Linked DNA regions of Homo sapiens: region 1 is linked to region 2. Evidence: fine-mapped expression QTL. A gene starts in region 2. The other region holds a variant in brackets. All regions are shown on one strand. Distances are between the middles of the regions. Region 1 overlaps RIPOR2 (RHO family interacting cell polarization regulator 2). Region 2 holds the start of RIPOR2 (RHO family interacting cell polarization regulator 2).

The links.
Region 1: its variant is fine-mapped to the expression of RIPOR2 in whole blood (TOPMed, PIP above 0.99).

Annotation. Positions count from the first base shown.
Region 1 is chr6:24,805,681-24,815,819 of GRCh38, forward strand. It overlaps RIPOR2 (RHO family interacting cell polarization regulator 2), which reads right to left. Exons shown (of 22, transcript NM_001286445.3): 21 at 4,037-4,127; 22 at 1-793. The coding sequence ends at 693. Among named protein-coding and RNA genes, the nearest start is that of ARMH2, 12 kb to the left of the region's middle. The variant CT/C (reference allele first, on the strand shown) is at 5,351.
Region 2 is chr6:24,930,536-24,940,674 of GRCh38, forward strand. It overlaps RIPOR2 (RHO family interacting cell polarization regulator 2), which reads right to left and starts at 5,425. Exons shown (of 22, transcript NM_001286445.3): 1 at 5,303-5,425. The coding sequence starts at 5,363. It overlaps LOC105374981 (a long non-coding RNA gene), which reads left to right and starts at 3,440. Exons shown (of 3, transcript XR_007059514.1): 1 at 3,440-3,529; 2 at 3,711-3,835. RefSeq lists an enhancer at 6,138-6,307.

The sequences.
Region 1 (10,139 bases), 120 kb before region 2:
ACTGCAAGGCATATGATGTTTGTCGAAGTATCACATGACTATTTCAAGCTTATAGAGAAACTTGCAAAAAAGTACAAAGATGGCTATTTTTAAATTTCATACATATTAAGATAAGATGGACTCTTTCACTGAGTATTATTAGACACAATCGACGATGTAATATATTTGAATTATACCATAGCCCTATTCTATATTGGCCAAAGGAAAAGTAGATAGGTACTGTGAAACGAGACTCTGAATTCTTTCTATAACATGTTTTTTTAGTTGTTGTTGTTGTTTTGTTTTTTGAGACAGGGTTTTGCTCTGTCACCCAGTCTGGAGTGCAGTGGGGCAATTATGGCTCACTGCAGCCTGAATCTTCTGGGCTCAAGCAATCCTCCCACCTTAGCCTCCCAAGTAGCTGGGACTACAGGTGCATGCCACCACGCCTGACTAATTAAACTATTTTTTTTGTAGAGACAGGGCCTTGCTATGTTGCCCAGGTTGGTCTTGAACCTCCTGGGCTTAAGCAATTCTCCTGCGTTGGCCTCCCAAAGTACTGGGATTACAGGCATGAGCCACTGCACCTGGCCTACATTTTTATTTCAGTTGTCGTGTCTCTCAGGCTCTAAACAATTTCCAGCCCAAACCACAGCACCATCCTGATGAAAAGGGCCAGATATTAAGACAGCTGTTAGGCAGTTAACCTGTAATTAAAAGGCTGTGGCAACTTCAGTTCCATGACGACCTCCGACTTTAACACAGTCTCGAGGAAATTTGTCCAATTGTTCATATGCCAGCCGCCCATCTTCTCCTAAATACAGAACATTAAACATGAATACCAATTCAAACAACGTTTTTATTAATTACTCAAAGTAACATAGTGCCATTTGTTTAGGGATGGGTTGCTATAATATGCTATGCTAACTTTTGGTAAGGAAAAGTTATCTTTTGTTATTCCTAATTATGTCATTGTTTTCCAGGTAATGCTTAGAACAACCAAGAACTTTTGAGCTAATTAATGCCAGAGACCAAAAGAATGCCAGGGTATGAAACAGAGTAGAAGTCTTATGGCCATTTGATGTTGATGATTTCATATAATCGATTTATTTTAGAGCAATTGTATGGATTATATTTTAAGTACATTAGGGATTTCAATATGGCTAATGCACTGAACTTTTACATAACTTTTACTTGTATACATTATATATCGATACATCTAAATGATATGTGGTAAAATCAATCTTAGGCTTTCAAACTTCAGCTAAAAATTACTTTTTACTATGTAAACATACAGAGATGCCTTCTACCAGCCACCAGCTAGTTCAGTTTTGTCCGTAACGCCACCTTGAACAGTTAGGATGCAATTGCAAATAATTTTAATGTTTTGTTCTATTTTTCTACTTTAAAAAATGATTTAGAAAATGAGAAAATAAAATGCAAAGACAAGTGATAAGAAGCAGGCTTTCATACATGTAATGCAAGTGAGACAAAGATGGAAATAGTTGTGCCTAATCAGAAGTTCAGCTGGGTGTGGTGGCTCACACCTGTAACCCCAGAACTTTGGGAAGCCAAGGTGAGTGGATCACTTGAGGTCACGAGTTTGAGACCAGCCTGATCAACACAGTGAAACCCCATCTCTACCAAAAAATACAAAAAAAGAGTTAGCTGGGTGTGGTGGAATCCACCTGTAGTCCCAGCTACTTGGGAGGCTGAGGCAGGAGAATTGCTTGAACTCGGGGGCAGAGGTTGCAATGAGACGAGATTGCATCATTGCACTCCAGCCTGGGTGATAGAGAGAGACTCCATGTTTAAGGTAGGCTAGGCTAAGCTATGATGTTCTGCAAGTAAGATGTATTAAGTGCATTTTTGACTTAACAGTATTTTCAACTTACAACGGGTTTATTGGGATGTAACCCCATTGTAAGTCAAGGAGCAGCTATCCTCAAAATTGAGTAAACTTAAAACTTCAGTTCCTCCATGGTGGCAAAGGTGAACAGCCCAACAGCCATTTAGGATGGCTGCTGTCATACTGGACAGTGCGCATATAGAACAATCCCATCACCATGGAGGGATCTGTTGGACAGCTCTAGGTTAAAATGTCGAAATCATTCCATACTAGTTGGTAAATAGTTGCAGCCCTGAGTCCTTTAAGTGCCCGCAATGACCTTCTGCCCTTTGTCATAGGGCATTTTATCAATTCCTATTGAAAATACTATCCTCACTATATTAATTCAGTCATTTGTGTAAGAGAAAAATGTGCCAGTATTTGTGTATTAGGGTCAAAGAAGATTCATAATATTGACTTCAGGGGGGTCTCAAACTTTATATTAGAATCACCTGGGAGGCTTCAAAAAATCCTTAAAAAATCCTGATGCCAAGGAACACTTAGACCAATGAAAGCAGAATCTTTGGGAGTAGATTGTTTAAGCTTCCCTGGCAAATGTGCAGCCAGTGTTGAGCACTGCACACTGGTGGTGTGAGAGGGCCCAGGGCTGATATGAGCAGTGTGCATGAAGAGCTAAGGTGAAGCAGGTATGGTGATGGCTTCTGGAGATGCTGCTGTTTGCACAGCTCCAGTGAGGCCCGGGGCACATTCTGTAGGATCAGCTTCCTTAGGTTACACTGGAAATAGAAGCTTCGTTGGCTATGCTTTATAAGCGCCTGGCTTACCTTCATGGTTATTTTAGAATATGAAGGGATAAAGGAGTTTAAACTAATAATACCTTGGTACATTTTTAGAGAATTAAATAATTTCTATGCCTAATACAACCATAAGGAATAACTTTTATTCTTTAAACAAATATATACTGGCTAAGATTTCTGTGGAAGAAATCATATATTCAATAGCAGAATGAAGCCTTGTTAAACCCATAATTGTAAGAAAGAGGGCCTAACAATAAATGGGATTTTCACAGTGATTATAAATGCCATGAGATTCTTCTTCATGTTGTTAAGTTAGTATCACTAAACAAGGGTAGCTTTTTTCTAAGCTGCAGTATTGATTGGATTATGTCTGAGGATTTCTAGGAGCATAGTTTTTATACTTTAAGATTGTGTTGTTGAAGTAAAATTATTTATAATAATTATTTATACTTTTTTCTTTTTTTTTTTTTTTGAGACAGAGTCTTGCTCTGTCACCCAGGCTGGAATACAGTGGCATGATCTCAGCTCACTGCAACCTCCGTTTCCTGGGTTCAAGTGATTCTCCTACCTCAGCCTCCCAAGTAGCTGGGACTACAGGTGCACCCCACCACACCTGGCTAATTTTTGTATTTTTAGTAGATACATGGTTTCATCATGTTGGCCAGGCTGGTCTCGAACTCTTGACCTCAAGTGATCCACTCACCTTGGCCTCCCAAAGTGCTGGGGTTACAGGGGTGAGCCACCAAACCCAGCTATTTATACTTTTTAATACAGAGTTAAGAAAGGCTTTCCCCACCCTCCCAAGTCCCCAAAAAAGAATAAATGTATAATGCCTGCTAGGCATGAACCTTCATAAAATAAAGTGAAGAGGAAGGATTATCTGGATATTTCAGAATAAAATAAGTACTCCAATTCTTTTCTTAGGTATCAGGGCTCAGATGGGCAGAGGCCACAGGGCAGTCAGAGGTTAACCTGGGAGTCAGGGTGAGGCTGAGATACCTGGGGATTTACAGCATTCCCTGGGATGCATCTCTGGTACCTCACCCAATTTCTGTCCTCCAGGGAATGTCAACCCCACCTGGCAACACAGCCTGGATTCCTATTGCCTTTGCTTTATGGTTTGACTTCTGTGTTCTTGATTCTAAATAGTACACAGACTGATCAATCCATATAGAAAGTCTCCAGACAATATAGTTCACTCTCAGCATCCAGACAGAACAAGGAGTTGGGGTGAGATAGACACTGATCAGTTCTTCGTACTCTGTGTGTGAGAAGACAGCCTACAGCGGGGAAACTGCTAAACAGGGTACATGAAACTTCTCCTTACTGGAGAAGGGAACATCTAAATGGGAACATCCGTTAGAGAGTGCCAGAAGCAAACAATCATGTAAACAACAACAATAAAACTCACCCAGAGACAAGAGGGTTTCTGAGGCCACATTTCTGATTTCTTCAGTATCAGATTGACACAATGTCACCAGCATTTTAATGCTTTCAGTAGCCTATGGGGGAAAAATAGGTTAAATCGTGTTTTGACATTTAGGTCTAGAGTACCACGAGACTTGGCATTTCACAACTGGTGGGAACTTTAGCCTCACTTTGTTGCCCAGGCTGGAGTGCAATGGAGCAATCATAGCTCACTGCAGCCTTGACCTCCTGGGCTCAAGCAATTCTCCTGCCTCAGCCTCCTGAGTAGCCAGGACTGATTTTTAATTTTTAACCTTTGGTACAGATGAGGTCTCACTATGTTGCCCAGGCTAGTCGAATTCTTCTGCCTTGGCCTCCTAATGTGGTGGGATTACAGGTGTAAGCCACTGTGCCCGGCCAGCTGGTAGGAATGCTAAAAACCACTTTACCTATGGGGTCAAACCTAGCTGAGTGTCTGAAACCCAATATTCCTGGGTGCCACTCCGGATGCACTATATCAGAATTTCCTGGGATGGGGCCCAGAGTTCTTACTTTCAGGAATTCTGATGATCAGCTAAATTCCTCATTCCACAGCACACTCCTGGTCTAGAGGAGTGAAGTGACGAGCTTGCTTTTCCAGAGTAGAATCCATTTTCCCTGGTTCTTTCCACTGAATCTCACTGATTCCAAAATGGCTCTAATTAAAAAATTCTTACTATTTAGTTTATATGCTAAAATAGAGGAGGAGGTAAAGGCCATTAATGACAATTCTTCTATTTGTTTGTTCCACAAATATTTATTGAGCACTCCATGAACCAGACTATTCATAAGGCATGAGAGATTCCACAGTAAACCAGACATGGTTCTGGTCCTCAAGAATTTACAGTCTAGTGGATTCAGAGTATGAAAACCCATGCAGATCACTGTATCCTTATGTCTTTATTTACTTTGTCTGTATCACAGACATCTGTCACTGATATATCACTGGATATCAGGAAAGCACCCAAATAGCAATCACTGTGGGCTTTCTATTTGGGCACCTGAAGGTAATTTTTTTTTTAACCAAGTAACAAGGCAAAATTTCCTACAGCTGTTTCTTTTTTTTTCTTTGAGACAGAGTCTCATTCAGTCACCCAGACTGGAGTACAGTGGCGTGATCTTGGCTCACTGCAACTTCTGTCTCCTGGGTTCAAGCGATTCTCCTGCCTCAGCCTCCTGAGTAGCTGGGATTACAGGTGTGCGCCACCACGCCTGGCTAATTTTTGTGTTTTCAGTAAGGATGAGGTTTCACCATGTTGGCCAGGCTGGTCTCAAACTC[CT/C]GACCTCAGGTGATCCACCGGCCTCAGCCTCCCAAAGTGCTGGGATTACAGGCATGAGCCACCATGCCTGGCCCTAGAGCTGTTTTTGATCACAGGCCATTAACTTTTTCTTTTGAGGTATTAATTCCTTTCTTTATCAGGCCTGCAGCTCTTTTCCAAGATTTTGGCAAGTTCTAAGGTGTGGCCTTCTCTCATTCTTTTTTTTTTTTTTTTTTTTTTTTTTTGAGATGGAGTCTCTGTCGCCCAGGTTGGAGTGCAGTGGTGCAATCTTGGCTCACTGAAACCTCTGTCTCCTGGATTCAAGCGATTCTCCTGCCTCAGCCTCCCCAGTAGCTGGGATTACAGGTGTGTGCCACCATGCCTGGCTAATTTTTTTTGTATTTTTAGTAGAGACGGGGTTTCATCATGTTGACCAGGCTGGTCTCGATCTCCTGACCTCAAGTGATACGCCTGCCTCAGCCTTCCAAAGTGCTGGGATTACAGGCATGAGCCACTGCACCTGGCCTTCTCTCATTCTTTTCTCAAGACTGATTTGTCTTATTTTTTTGTGATGAAAGTAGGTCAAACATTACATCTTGCCATTGAAAGGGAAACATCCATGTCAGGAGTTCCCATTCGTTTAGTACTTTTTTTTTTTTTTTTTTCTTTTTTTTTTTTTTAATTATACTCTAAGTTTTAGGGTACATGTGCACATTGTGCAGGTTAGTTACATATGTATACATGTGCCATGCTGGTGCGCTGCATCCACTAATGTGTCATCTAGCATTAGGTATATCTCCCAATGCTATCCCTCCCCCCTCCCCCGACCCCACCACAGTCCCCAGAGTGTGATATTCCCCTTCCTGTGTCCATGTGATCTCATTGTTCAATTCCCACCTATGAGTGAGAATATGCGGTGTTTGGTTTTTTGTTCTTGCGATAGTTTACTGAGAATGATGGTTTCCATTTTCATCCATGTCCCTACAAAGGATATGAACTCATCATTTTTTATGGCTGCATAGTATTCCATGGTGTATATGTGCCACATTTTCTTAATCCAGTCTATCATTGTTGGACATTTGGGTTGGTTCCAAGTCTTTGCTATTGTGAATAGTGCCGCAATAAACATACGTGTGCATGTGTCTTTATAGCAGCATGATTTATACTCATTTGGGTATATACCCAGTAATGGGATGGCTGGGTCAAATGGTATTTCTAGTTCTAGATCCCTGAGGAATCGCCACACTGACTTCCACAATGGATGAACTAGTTTACAGTCCCACCAACAGTGTAAAAGTGTTCCTATTTCTCCGCATCCTCTCCAGCACCTGTTTCCTGACTTTTTAATGATTGCCATTCTAACTGGTGTGAGATGATATCTCATAGTGGTTTTGATTTGCATTTCTCTGATGGCCAGTGATGATGAGCATTTCTTCATGTGTTTTTTGGCTGCATAAATGTCTTCTTTTGAGAAGTGTCTGTTCATGTCCTTCGCCCACTTTTTGATGGGGTTGTTTGTTTTTTTCTTGTAAATTTGTTTGAGTTCATTGTAGATTCTGGATATTAGCCCTTTGTCAGATGAGTAGGTTGCGAAAATTTTCTCCCATGTTGTAGGTTGCCTGTTCACTCTGATGGTAGTTTCTTTTGCTGTGCAGAAGCTCTTTAGTTTAATTAGATCCCATTTGTCAATTTTGTCTTTTGTTGCCATTGCTTTTGGTGTTTTGGACATGAAGTCCTTGCCCACGCCTATGTCCTGAATGGTAATGCCTAGGTTTTCTTCTAGGGTTTTTATGGTTTTAGGTTTAACGTTTAAATCTTTAATCCATCTTGAATTGATTTTTGTATAAGGTGTAAGGAAGGCATCCAGTTTGAGCTTTCTACATATGGCTAGCCAGTTTTCCCAGCACCATTTATTAAATAGGGAATCCTTTCCCCATTGCTTGTTTTTCTCAGGTTTGTCGAAGATCAGATAGTTGTAGATATGCGGCATTATTTCTGAGGGCTCTGTTCTGTTCCATTGATCTATATCTCTGTTTTGGTACCAGTACCATGCTGTTTTGGTTACTGTAGCCTTGTAGTATAGTTTGAAGTCAGGTAGTGTGATGCCTCCAGCTTTGTTCTTTTGGCTTAGGATTGACTTGGCAATGCGGGCTCTTTTTTGGTTCCATATGAACTTTAAAGTAGTTTTTTCCAATTCTGTGAAGAAAGTCATTGGTAGCTTGATGGGGATGGCATTGAATCTGTAAATTACCTTGGGCAGTATGGCCATTTTCACGATATTGATTCTTCCTACCCATGAGCATGGAATGTTCTTCCATTTGTTTGTATCCTCTTTTATTTCCTTGAGCAGTGGTTTGTAGTTCTCCTTGAAGAGGTCCTTCACATCCCTTGTAAGTTGGATTCCTAGGTATTTTATTCTCTTTGAAGCAATTGTGAATGGGAGTTCACCCATGATTTGGCTCTCTGTTTGTCTGTTGTTGGTGTATAAGAATGCTTGTGATTTTTGTACATTGATTTTGTATCCTGAGACTTTGCTGAAGTTGCTTATCAGCTTAAGGAGATTTTGGGCTGAGACGATGGGGTTTTCTAGATAAACAATCATGTCGTCTGCAAACAGGGACAATTTGACTTCCTCTTTTCCTAATTGAATACCCTTTATTTCCTTCTCCTGCCTGATTGCCCTGGCCAGAACTTCCAACACTATGTTGAATAGGAGTGGTGAGAGAGGGCATCCCTGTCTTGTGCCAGTTTTCAAAGGGAATGCTTCCAGTTTTTGCCCATTCAGTATGATATTGGCTGTGGGTTTGTCATAGATAGCTCTTATTATTTTGAAATACGTCCCATCAATACCTAATTTATTGAGAGTTTTTAGCATGAAGGGTTGTTGAATTTTGTCAAAGGCTTTTTCTGCATCTATTGAGATAATCATGTGGTTTTTGTCTTTGGCTCTGTTTATATGCTGGATTACATTTATTGATTTGCGTATATTGAACCAGCCTTGCATCCCAGGGATGAAGCCCACTTGATCATGGTGGACAAGCTTTTTGATGTGCTGCTGAATTCGGTTTGCCAGTATTTTATTGAGGATTTTTGCATCAATGTTCATCAAGGATATTGGTCTAAAATTCTCTTTTTTGGTTGTGTCTCTGCCCGGCTTTGGTATCAGAATGATGCTGGCCTCATAAAATGAGTTAGGGAGGATTCCCTCTTTTTCTATTGATTGGAATAGTTTCAGAAGGAATGGTACCAGTTCCTCCTTGTACCTCTGGTAGAATTCGGCTGTGAATCCATCTGGTCCTGGACTCTTTTTGGTTGGTAAACTATTGATTATTGCCACAATTTCAGAGCCTGTTATTGGTCTATTCAGAGATTCAACTTCTTCCTGGTTTAGTCTTGGGAGAGTGTATGTGTCGAGGAATGTATCCATTTCTTCTAGATTTTCTAGTTTATTTGCGTAGAGGTGTTTGTAGTATTCTCTGATGGTAGTTTGTATTTCTGTGGGATCGGTGGTGATATCCCCTTTATCATTTTTTATTGTGTCTATTTGATTCTTCTCTCTTTTTTTCTTTATTAGTCTTGCTAGCGGTCTATCAATTTTGTTGATCCTTTCAAAAAACCAGCTCCTGGATTCATTGATTTTTTGAAGGGTTTTTTGTGTCTCTATTTCCTTCAGTTCTGCTCTGATTTTAGTTATTTCTTGCCTTCTGCTAGCTTTTGAATGTGTTTGCTCTTGCTTTTCTAGTTCTTTTAATTGTGATGTTAGGGTGTCAATTTTGGATCTTTCCTGCTTTCTCTTGTAGGCATTTAGTGCTATAAATTTCCCTCTACACACTGCTTTGAATGCGTCCCAGAGATTCTGGTATGTGGTGTCTTTGTTCTCGTTGGTTTCAAAGAACATCTTTATTTCTGCCTTCATTTCGTTATGTACCCAGTAGTCATTCAGGAGCAGGTTGTTCAGTTTCCATGTAGTTGAGCGGCTTTGAGTGAGATTCTTAATCCTGAGTTCTAGTTTGATTGCACTGTGGTCTGAGAGATAGTTTGTTATAATTTCTGTTCTTTTACATTTGCTGAGGAGAGCTTTACTTCCAACTATGTGGTCAATTTTGGAATAGGTGTGGTGTGGTGCTGAAAAAAATGTATATTCTGTTGATTTGGGGTGGAGAGTTCTGTAGATGTCTATTAGGTCTGCTTGGTGCAGAGCTGAGTTCAATTCCTGGGTATCCTTGTTGACTTTCTGTCTCGTTGATCTGTCTAATGTTGACAGTGGGGTGTTAAAGTCTCCCATTATTAATGTGTGGGAGTCTAAGTCTCTTTGTAGGTCACTGAGGACTTGCTTTATGAATCTGGGTGCTCCTGTATTGGGTGCATAAATATTTAGGATAGTTAGCTCCTCTTGTTGAATTGATCCCTTTACCATTATGTAATGGCCTTCTTTGTCTCTTTTGATCTTTGTTGGTTTAAAGTCTGTTTTATCAGAGACTAGGATTGCAACCCCTGCCTTTTTTTGTTTTCCATTGGCTTGGTAGATCTTCCTCCATCCTTTTATTTTGAGCCTATGTGTGTCTCTGCACGTGAGATGGGTTTCCTGAATACAGGACACTGATGGGTCTTGACTCTTTATCCAACTTGCCAGTCTGTGTCTTTTAATTGCAGAATTTAGTCCGTTTATATTTAAAGTTAATATTGTTATGTGTGAATTTGATCCTGTCATTATGATGTTAGCTGGTGATTTTGCTCATTAGTTGATGCAGTTTCTTCCTAGTCTCGATGGTCTTTACATTTTGGCATGATTTTGCAGCGGCTGGTACC
Region 2 (10,139 bases):
TAGTTTATGCCCCTGCAATGACACCATCTCTTTGGCACCAGCCAAAGAAAGCTTCCTAGACATCTATGGGAAGAGAATGTTTTGCAGTAATCCAAGGCAGAGGTCACACAAGCATGAATTACTGTGGGGAGGTCTTTGTCTGCTCCAGACCCTGGGACAAATAAAGTAGGGAAAGTGACTTCCAACTAAAGCATTTATCCAGGAATTCGGGGGTGGAAATTGATCCAAGCAATCTTGGCAAATTGTGAAAGCAAAGAGTGACCAATTCTTTTCAACCCAGGAAACTAGGGCAGCCTCTTTCTGCCCCTTTTCCAATCCCGTTATTGGGTCCACTTGAGAAACCCAGATATTTCTTGAGAAAGATTCAGCATAGTTAAATAGCAATGCTTGTATTTATTTATGTTATAAAATGTGGCATAATCACACAAAAATCTCCAATCCTCTCTAGCCAAGGCTCATATACTTTTACATTTGATTTCTCTTACTTTTTCCATGGAGGGTATGACTTAACCAGTCTGAACTTTCAACATTTACTAGTTTTGTACATAATATGAATTTAATTGCTTTTTTCCCCTTTCTTCTTTCTATTAATTTTGGAAGGAGCAAATACAATTCAGGAAACAATATCAAAATATTCCAGATTATACCAGATTGCATAATTATTTACCTATTAAAAGAAAAATACTACCTTGGTTTTGTAAACAGCCTACATGGAAAGACAAAAAAAATAGGTATTTATCCTAATTACAATTCTTTTTGTGTGTGTGTGTGTGTTAAGTGTTTTGTAGTCTTCTTGCTCCCTCTGACCTGAAGTTCCCTTTGAAAAGGAAAAAGTGCTAACTTACTTGGCTTGGAGAAAGGAGAGAGGCTTGGTTCAAAAGTGACTGCCAATTTTTTTCCAACCAGCTGTTAGTCTCCTTAAGAGCAACAGGCAGCTAATGGTTGAATGGACTTCCTTTTGCCAGTTCATCTCCATCTGGGAGAGTTCCCCTCCTTTGTGGAGGTTGAAACAACTTTCTCAGACACAGTTATCCAGGACAGAAGTATTCTCATGCTCAGTTGCACTCTACCAGCTCTGGGGGACATTTGAAAATCTGACAAATGCTTTGTAGTTTCTTGTGATCTTCAAGCATAATCTTAAAAGGCATGTAAGTGTCCAGGAAATACAAGAACCTGAGAAATACTTTGCACACTTACTGTGAACTTGGGGTGTTTTATTATTCTAATCATTGCACCTGACAAAAGATTACTGAGCAGTGCTGAAAATGGAGGCGGGGCGGGTTGCGTTTCTAAGGAAAGAAGCAATTGCAGCTTTAACTTGTGCCAAGGAGTAATTTTGGCTGCTAAAATACTCACTGACCACCACCTGGTGAGCCGTTTGCTCCCACACGTGAATTCTGTTCTGTTCTTGAAAGCAGGATAGGAACCTACACTGTGCATGGCCCTTCTTTTTTCCTTTTTTCAATTGTCATCATCATTGTCATCATCATCATCAGCAGCAGCAGCATTGTTGTAGTCATTACCATTATTACCCATCCAGTTATTTCCACTAACACTGACCAGACTGGCTGTCAAGATCACACAGTGACAAAACAGATGAAAGCCCTTTAATTTGATAAGTTTGAAAGAACAATGGGAAAAGAGTCTGTAAGGCTAACTACTGGTTTTTCACTACCTTGATAATCAAATGAATCATTTCTCCAGGAAAGATTAAGCCTACTTGAGAGTAACCATTTTCTAAATGACGTGATGATGTTGTTAGGAAAGCAAACTTAAGACTGTGTGTGTGTGTGTGTGTGTGTGTGTGTATGAGAGAGAGAAAAAGAGAGAGAAGAAACAGATGGAGAGACAGAGAGAGAACAGACATTGGGATTTGCAGTGTGTAGGTGAATCCCTTTTCTTTCTGTCTCTCTTTCTCTTTCTCTCTCACTATATGCAACCTGTTTTAGAACAAGAGCAGTTACACACCAATGCTCCGAAGTTCTGTGAACCTTAACATTTCCTTTAACCACAAAAAACAATTGCTGAAGCAAACAGGATCTCAGAAAGGCAGTTTAAAAAATACATTGTGAGGATGACTCATTGACTCATTTTTTTTCTTCCCAGATCTTTATAGTGTCCATATATCTAAATGGATTTATATATACTTTTAAGCAAATGCACCTAAATTCTAAATCTGTGTAACCTCTAGGAGAAAGGGATCTTAAAAATGTGTCAATTGCAAGGAAATATAGTTGCCCTAATAACAAGCTTCTGGGCATTTTCCTTTTTTTATGTTACGGAAAACTCATTGTGCCAAAAGCTTTCTGCTTAGGCATGTTAAGTGAGCTGAAAGTATGCGTGAATCCTAGAACAAGCATGAACTTTTACAGGTAGATACATCATTTTGAAGTAAAGACTGGAGACTGGGTAGTAGAATGCTCAGAGAATGTGTAATCAGTCCCCTTGTTTCAGAAGAAGAATGAGGCTCAAAGAAGATAAATGACTTGCCCAAGATCCTCCAGCTATACCACAGCAGGGGCAAGGCTACAACTCAGACTCCTAACAACTTGTTCAGTGCTATATCTGCCACGTTAAACCTCTGAAAAGTTATTTATAAACTGAAGTTCTGTAAATAAGTCCTATTTTGAATCTGAGGTTAACCAGACGTGAAAAAATGGTCACTATTCTATAAACCCATTTTTGTAAATAGACAATAGGGATTCATATGTATTAAGTACTGACCACTATTCTAAAAGCTTTCCCTATCATAACACTTAAGCCACACACAGCCATATGAGGTTTGGACTCCATTTTATAAGTGAGTAAACTGAGGCACAGAGAGATTAGGTAACCTGCTTAAGGTCATAAGTGAATTGGTTGGCAAAGCCTAGACCGTGCAATTCCAGAGCTGAAGCTTTTGACTGTTACCCCACACAGAGCTTGCTTAAAATGAGGCAGCAGCTGGACATGCTTTCACATAAATTGCCAAACATGAGCCACGGCTCTGAAAACTGAATAAAAATACACTGGATGTTGGCCTTGCAAGGATTTTCTCTTTAATCTTTAGGGATTAAGTTAAATGAGATAATCAGTTTGGAAAAGATAAAGCATACCACATTGAAGTGCAACGCAAACATTATGCATCTACTATGAAGATAATCTGTACAACCGATAGGTATTACTGTCCCACTTCACCATTGAGGAGACCAAAGTTAGCTTGTATGGGTACCACGAAGCAGAACCAGAATCTGAGTCTGAATCTCGTTTGACTCCCAACTTATCAACCTGCACTACCTCCCTCACTTCCCACCTCAGAGCTAGCTGGTTACCTAGCTACCTGGAACCTGGGGACCTCAGCCATTCCACTACAACATGGTTAGTGAGGTTACAATAATCACCTTGGAAATGATGAATGCTCAGGAGAGAGAACACACAGGTTCATCCAGCCCTGCTTGGTCTTAACGCTTCCCTTCAGGATGGGGCCACGCATAATCCAGAGTGCAGTGCATCAGCCTATAGAGGGCGCTCTTAAGTATCATAGCCAGATGTAAAAGAGCAAAATTCCTATAGGCAAAGAAATGTGGGCTGGGCGTTTTGGAATGCCATTCCTGGAGGGAGGTGTGGGTGAATGATTGCCAATTTTTCCGTTCTAAGCTTATCTTCATAGTTGTGAGCATTTTTCAGGTCCTCAAAAGAGTTAGTATCTAAGTATAAATTTTCTCTTTAAGGTGTTTGCTTAAAGAGGAAACATCTTTAAGAAGTGAAAGCTGAAGAATGGGGCCTAAGATCAAACTTCAAGGTGTTGGTGGCCTAAACGCCTGCCATCAAAGTAACACAACAGAATGATAACTTGGTAAACAGCAGCGAAGCTCAATAGATATTCTTCAAATTGATTTAAGTTGTGATAAAAACCCAACTAATGATTTTAAATATTTCTGTAGCTAGAACAACATAGCAGAAAGACAACATCAAAATATTAACCATGATTACATTCTACATGACTAGATTACAAGGGGTTCTTTGCGACACTCTAATTTTTCTTCAGCGAACTTGTATTGCTTGGGTAATTACACATACACAAAAACCTTACTACTGTTCCTTTTAAAAAATTACTGAATAGAGTTTTTTAAAAAATTGCTAGACGTAGTTTCTTGCGGAAAATAATCAAATTCACGAGATTCTTGAGTCCAAATTTCCTTTATTTAGGTGGCTCCAAATTCTAAAAAAGCTTTTGCCTATAGCCCAATCTCATAGGCAGCATTTGAACAAAACATCCATCCAATGACTAGATCATCCCTTTAAAATCGCAACCTTTACAGTTAAATTCCAGTGGATAGGTCAAGTCATGGAAAAGCTGCAAGATGAGAACAGAAAACTGAGCAGTGCCAATGGGGATTGGAAGCTACCAGGGCTCCAGTATCCCGACTTGGGAAAAAAGAAAATTGGAAAAGGGAATGGAGGGTTGGAGTGCCAAGTATGTGTGAGGAAGAGTAAGAGAGAAGGACCCAGGCCGGGCATGGTAGCTCACGCCTGTAATCCCAGCACTTTGGGGGGCCAAGGAGGGTGGATCACCTGAAGTCAGGATTTCAAGACCAGCCTGGCCAACATGGCAAAATCCCATCTCTACTAAAAATACAAAAATTAGCTGGGCATGGTGGTGGGCGCCTGTAGTCCCAGCTACTTGGGAGGCTGAGGCAGGAGAATGACTTGAACCCGGGAGACGGAGGTTGCAGTGAGCTGAGATTGCACCACTGCACTCCAGCCTGAGCAACAAAGCAAGACTCTGTCTCAAAAAACAACAACAAAAAAAAAAAAAAAAAAAAAGAGAAGGACCGAGAGAAAGATAGACAGAGAGAGAGAGACAGAGAGAGAGAGAGACAGAAAGAGAGAAGTGCAAATCAAAGCAACATGGTACCATGAAAAACCACTCCTGGTCCATTTATTTAACTTCTTCCCTAGCAGCCCTGCTGTGCTCAAACCACTGTGACAGGCTTTCCTTAAGGTGTTAGACAAGAGATAGCACAGAAGAGAGACAAGGCAAAAAATTTAGTACTATTTTCCAGCCTAAACTAAACCTTTATTTTAGTCATGACTTTAAAAAATGTATTTGCGGGAATGACTCAACCCCTTGTTCCACCCCTTGCCTTGTGTATTCCTTCAGTGCCTAAGTTGATATTTGCAGCCACTACCTCACTCAGGATGCTTTGTTTTTATCATTTCAAAATACTCAAGTCCTTGCCCAAGCTGGGCAAAAGTGTCCAGTGGTGTCAAAACAAAGCAAAGCAGACCGGAGAGCCTCCTGCCAGAAAGATGCATTTACCTTCACCAAAAACATCATCCTCTTCATCGACCAGGAGCTCCTCAGCATCAAAAAACTGCATCTTGGAGAGGACAGGCGCGAGAAGCAGCAGGCAGCAGCCCCGGCAGTCTCAGCAGTCACACTGCCGACCGAGGTGATTTCCTTTCCTTGGGTTGCCCAAGCCCTCTGGAGGGCAGCTTCCGCATCTGCCCTGAAGAAAGCAGTTTCATTCATATGAATAGGCTTCTTGAGCCTTGTGAAGAGTGAATCCCAGGTGGGGTAATTCTCACCACTGAGGAGAAAGAATTTTTTGAAGAGGGCTGCAGATCCGGTTGGATATGAATACAGATATCACTCAAAGTCTGAATGCAATGAATTCTATTTCAAAGCAACAACTTTCATATTTCCTTAAAGAGGAAGGTGGGTGCTTAACTTTCTTGCTTATGAATTTGAACACAATGGGTTTTGTTGAAAGAGGGAGTTCATATTTCTCATATCTTGGTTTTGCTTCAATTACAATTTATCTGAAAGTAAAGCAAGCCACTATGTTAAACCAAAGCAGGCATTTAGAGGACAGAGCTTTTATTTTGCTCAGTAATAGTTGCATTTTTCTTTTCTTTTCTTTTCTTTTTTTCAAACCTCTTGCATTTAAGGATTGGAAACTTTACAGCATTTAAACCAAACTGAACCATATCTAGGCTTTATGTGGCTCGATTAAATCTATAGTCAATGAATAGATAACTGGTTTTGGTCAAACATCTTGCATTTCACAATATTTACTCAGTTTGATACTTCAGACTGTATCACTAAAGGAGAAAGAAGAAAATGTAACTCAAAAAGCAGTCCTCCCAAAGGGATGAGTGAACACTGAGCTTCTACGCGAGCACCATTGGCTGGCATCACCATATCGAGCTACCCAACGTGTGCCAAATTCTGTCTGGCTGCACAAACAAACACACATCTCTCTGAGTAATACTGAGACTTCATTTCGGGGTTTCCCAGAGCACTCCACTGTGTTGTAAGATCTCTTAGGTGGCCAGAAGCTTAGAAAATGCAAATGGAGATGACAGTGAGGAGCTGTTGACCCAAGGTGTTTATTTTTGGCACTTTATTTACTGCATGGTTTTGAAGATACTCCCAGTGTTACCCTAGAGAAACTGTCCCCTCCTCCTGTAACTGCAACCTTGAAATTGCACCATTTTCTCCCAGAAGAGACTGTGGACAACAGGGTTGGAGAAATCCAGCAGTGAGAAGGGATCACCCCAGAGGAATTCAGGAATCAGACACTGAGGGTTAACTGAGCAGCAACAGTCAGTTCATCCCTGCATTGGTGGCTGCAGCAGTTCCCAAAGACAGTGTACAGCTTGGGTCCTGCTGGGATCACCAATTGTTGTCAATCAGGGCTGGAACCATCCTTAGAGGAGAGCTTGGAAATGTCTGGGGTGTTTTGGGTGGCACAATGACTGGGGGTTATTACTGGTATTTAATGTCTTAGCACTCAGGGGCCCAGGGATATCAACCTTACCATAATGCATGGAACAGTAGCTCAACAGGAAGAACTGTCCAGCTCCAAATACCAATAATGCCCACCTTGAGACACACTGACAGGCAGAGAACTGGAGTTATCCTTTTCTCTAGCTCTCCTTTGCATCTCCCCTTTCTGACCCTTTTACCACCCCCTACCATGATCCCCACTTGAATGATGTTTCTGGACAAGGGTTGCACTTAGTTACATAAATTAAATTAATTAAAATGGGCCTAGGTGTAGGAAATTTGGATGTGGACTAAAGCTCTCTTTTGTGTGGTTGGGATAAGAGGATGGGTGTCCATTTTGATAATCACTACATTTCTCAACTACTGTCCTATGTCCTTTAATCTCCACAACTTCATGAGGTGGGTGCTATTATCCCATTTTACAGATGAAGCAATGGGGGCTCTGAGGGCTTGAAAAACATTCCTAAGATCAGGCAGCTAGTGAGTGGCAGATTTGACTAATTCCAGAGCTCACTCTGTTACCTCATGTCTGGACAACTTATGGGAGTGACTGCACACAGTCCAGTTCACTGCAGCATCCCCGTGGCTCTTGGGGACCTGCACTACCTCCCTCACCTCCCACCTCAGAACTACCTGGTTACCACGTGAACCTGAGGGCCCTAGCTATTCCACTTCAAAAAGTTAGCATAACCTCTGTAGGCCTGTTTCATTTTAAGTGGGTGGAATTGTGTCTCCCCTGTTGAATTCATATGTTGAAGTCCTAACCCCCAGTACCTCAGAATGTGACCTTACTTAGAAACAGGGCCATTGAAGATATAATTAGTTAGGATGAACTTATATCATATTGGAGGAGGATGGGTCCTTAATCCAATATGACTAACTTCCTCATAAAAAGGAGAGATTTAGACAAAGACATAGACATAGGGAGGATAGTATGTGAAGATGAAGGCAGAGATCCACAAGCCAAGGAACACCAAAGACTGCCAGTAAACCACCATGAGCTAGGGGAGAGGCCTGCAAGAGATTCTCCCTCACATCCCTCAGAAGAACCAATCCTGCCAACACCTTGACCTTGGACTTCTAGCCTCCACAGCTGTGATGCAGTAAGTTTCTGTTGCTTAAGCCACCCAGTTTGTGGTACTTCATTACAGAAGTCCTAGAAAATAATATACTTTCTCATTTGGCTTGTTTTGAGGATTAAGTAGGATAATTTATGTAAAGAAGCTGACACAGTACATGGTACACAGTAAATACCCAGTTATAATTATACGCCTAAGTCTCTCACAGGGACGCTTAGGATATTTCCCAAATTGAAGGCTCAATGGGGATAGAGAATGAGAAGTCACCACACTCCATATAAAACCTCAATAACCCTTAGGAAGTTTCCCTCAGTCTCCTCTTCTCCAATTTAGATATCTCAGAAACACAGCTAATCATCTCAAAGAACAAATCACAAATGCTACCACGAACTCCTTGAAAGCACAGAGGATAGAAAACATGGTTCTTGCTCTCCAAAGTTTACAATTACCTTAGAGAGATATGACATACATGCATGATGTGTTAACTAAAAAGAAAAATTAATAAACTACATATGCATGCATCAATATGGATGAGTTTCAAAAACATAATATTGACTTTGAAAGGTCTCAGAAAATTATAAATGGTATAATTATATTTATATGAGTGTCCAAAATGAGCAAATAAAAAAATGTAGGTAATCGCTAACACAGAGTGCCAGCAACAGTTTTAAGTGCTTTGATTCACTTAATTCCTATATCAACCCTAAGATATAGATATATTTATTATCTCTATTTTAGTTTAAGGCCCAAGAGGTGAAGTGATCCACCCAAGGTCATACATTTGGTAAGTGGTAGAGGTACTGAGATTTGATCCCAGAGTCCAAACTCTTAAACACCAGGCTACACTATCTCTTATCTATGTAAAGTCTAAAAGAATGCTGAGCTTATATAAAATTTTAACAAAGTGCAATAAACTGTGAAGAAGTGACTAGACAAAGGAGGCAGAGTAGGGGAGTGGGCTCCTAAGAGTGGCAAATTGTGGGAAGGTAACTAGGAATGTATGATAGCTAAGGATTGTTATGCAGACTCATCTCTCATATCAGGAAGAGGACCATGAGGCTTAGTCACCCAAGATGGGAAATAAAACACCTTTACAAGTGGAAATTTATGGCACTTAAAGCAGAAAGGAGAAGGGCAGAAGATTCTTTCTCAAAAATAGCTCAAAATAGTACTTATGCTAAATTAGCATATTTTGGGGGACACATTCTGATCCCCTTCGAATCCATATTAGAAAAGAAAGACTAAAGATAGGGAAATTCAGTGCTTAGTTAAGGGAGATGTAGGTCACAGAGAGTAGTTTTCACTAAGAAATGAGGAGTAAGTCTGAAACAACAATGAAAGAATCTTGCTTTTCAGTGATTGAGGCAAACAGCTCCAATAATTGGATTTGGGGAAGAGAACAAAAGTATAGATGAACCAGTATAAGGCAACTACTTTGATCAAATGGTGATTTGTGACAACCTGTACTAAATTTAACAGCAGAATTTCATCAAGGTCATAAGCACAGGAACATAGCAAAGCTTTTATACTCCAAAGAGTTGGTGCCCACTTTATGCCATACTAGGTCTGTGAATTACAATGATATGAAAGGTCTGGTCCTTGCTTTGTGGAACTTTACTCACTTCATTCATTTGGAGAATAGTAATGAATACCTACTATATTTCAGGTATGGTGTGAAATATTTAAGTAAATATATAAGTGAGAAGGCATGTGTTGTGTTGAACATATGAATATCAACACAGTATTATTATTTTGAGTTATGAGAATTGAGGCTATAATAATTAATAATTTATTAATTTAAAATATTTCTGCATAGTTTGCTGTTTTGAAAAAAAATACCACCTGTGAAGCGTGTACAGGAGGAAACCATACTAGTGGAAAAATTTCAACATCCAACGTGGGCTTTTATTCCAACAGAAGAGCCTCACAATCTTCTCTCTGTGCTTCTGGAGAATTTCCCACTCCTTTCAGAAAGTGTTTTAAAATACTTAATTTTCAGATATACAAACTTCTGAACAGGGAGAAAAACCTGAACTAATTAGGAGCAAAATGTTCGAAACAGAAAGGAGAACAAAGTAGGAGAGAGGAATTGAAACTGTGAGGAGTGGTAGGAATCAGAAAAGAAAAAGGTGAAAAAAACCACAGAGTCAGAAATAATCTTATCTTTGGGTAACTTTGCCAGTAAAGATGCACCTAAAAATTTGTCTAATTTGTCTAACTGTAAAATGCCATGTCTAAAGAGCTGGGACAAAAGGAATACGATTTTTTTTTTTTGAAACAGAGTC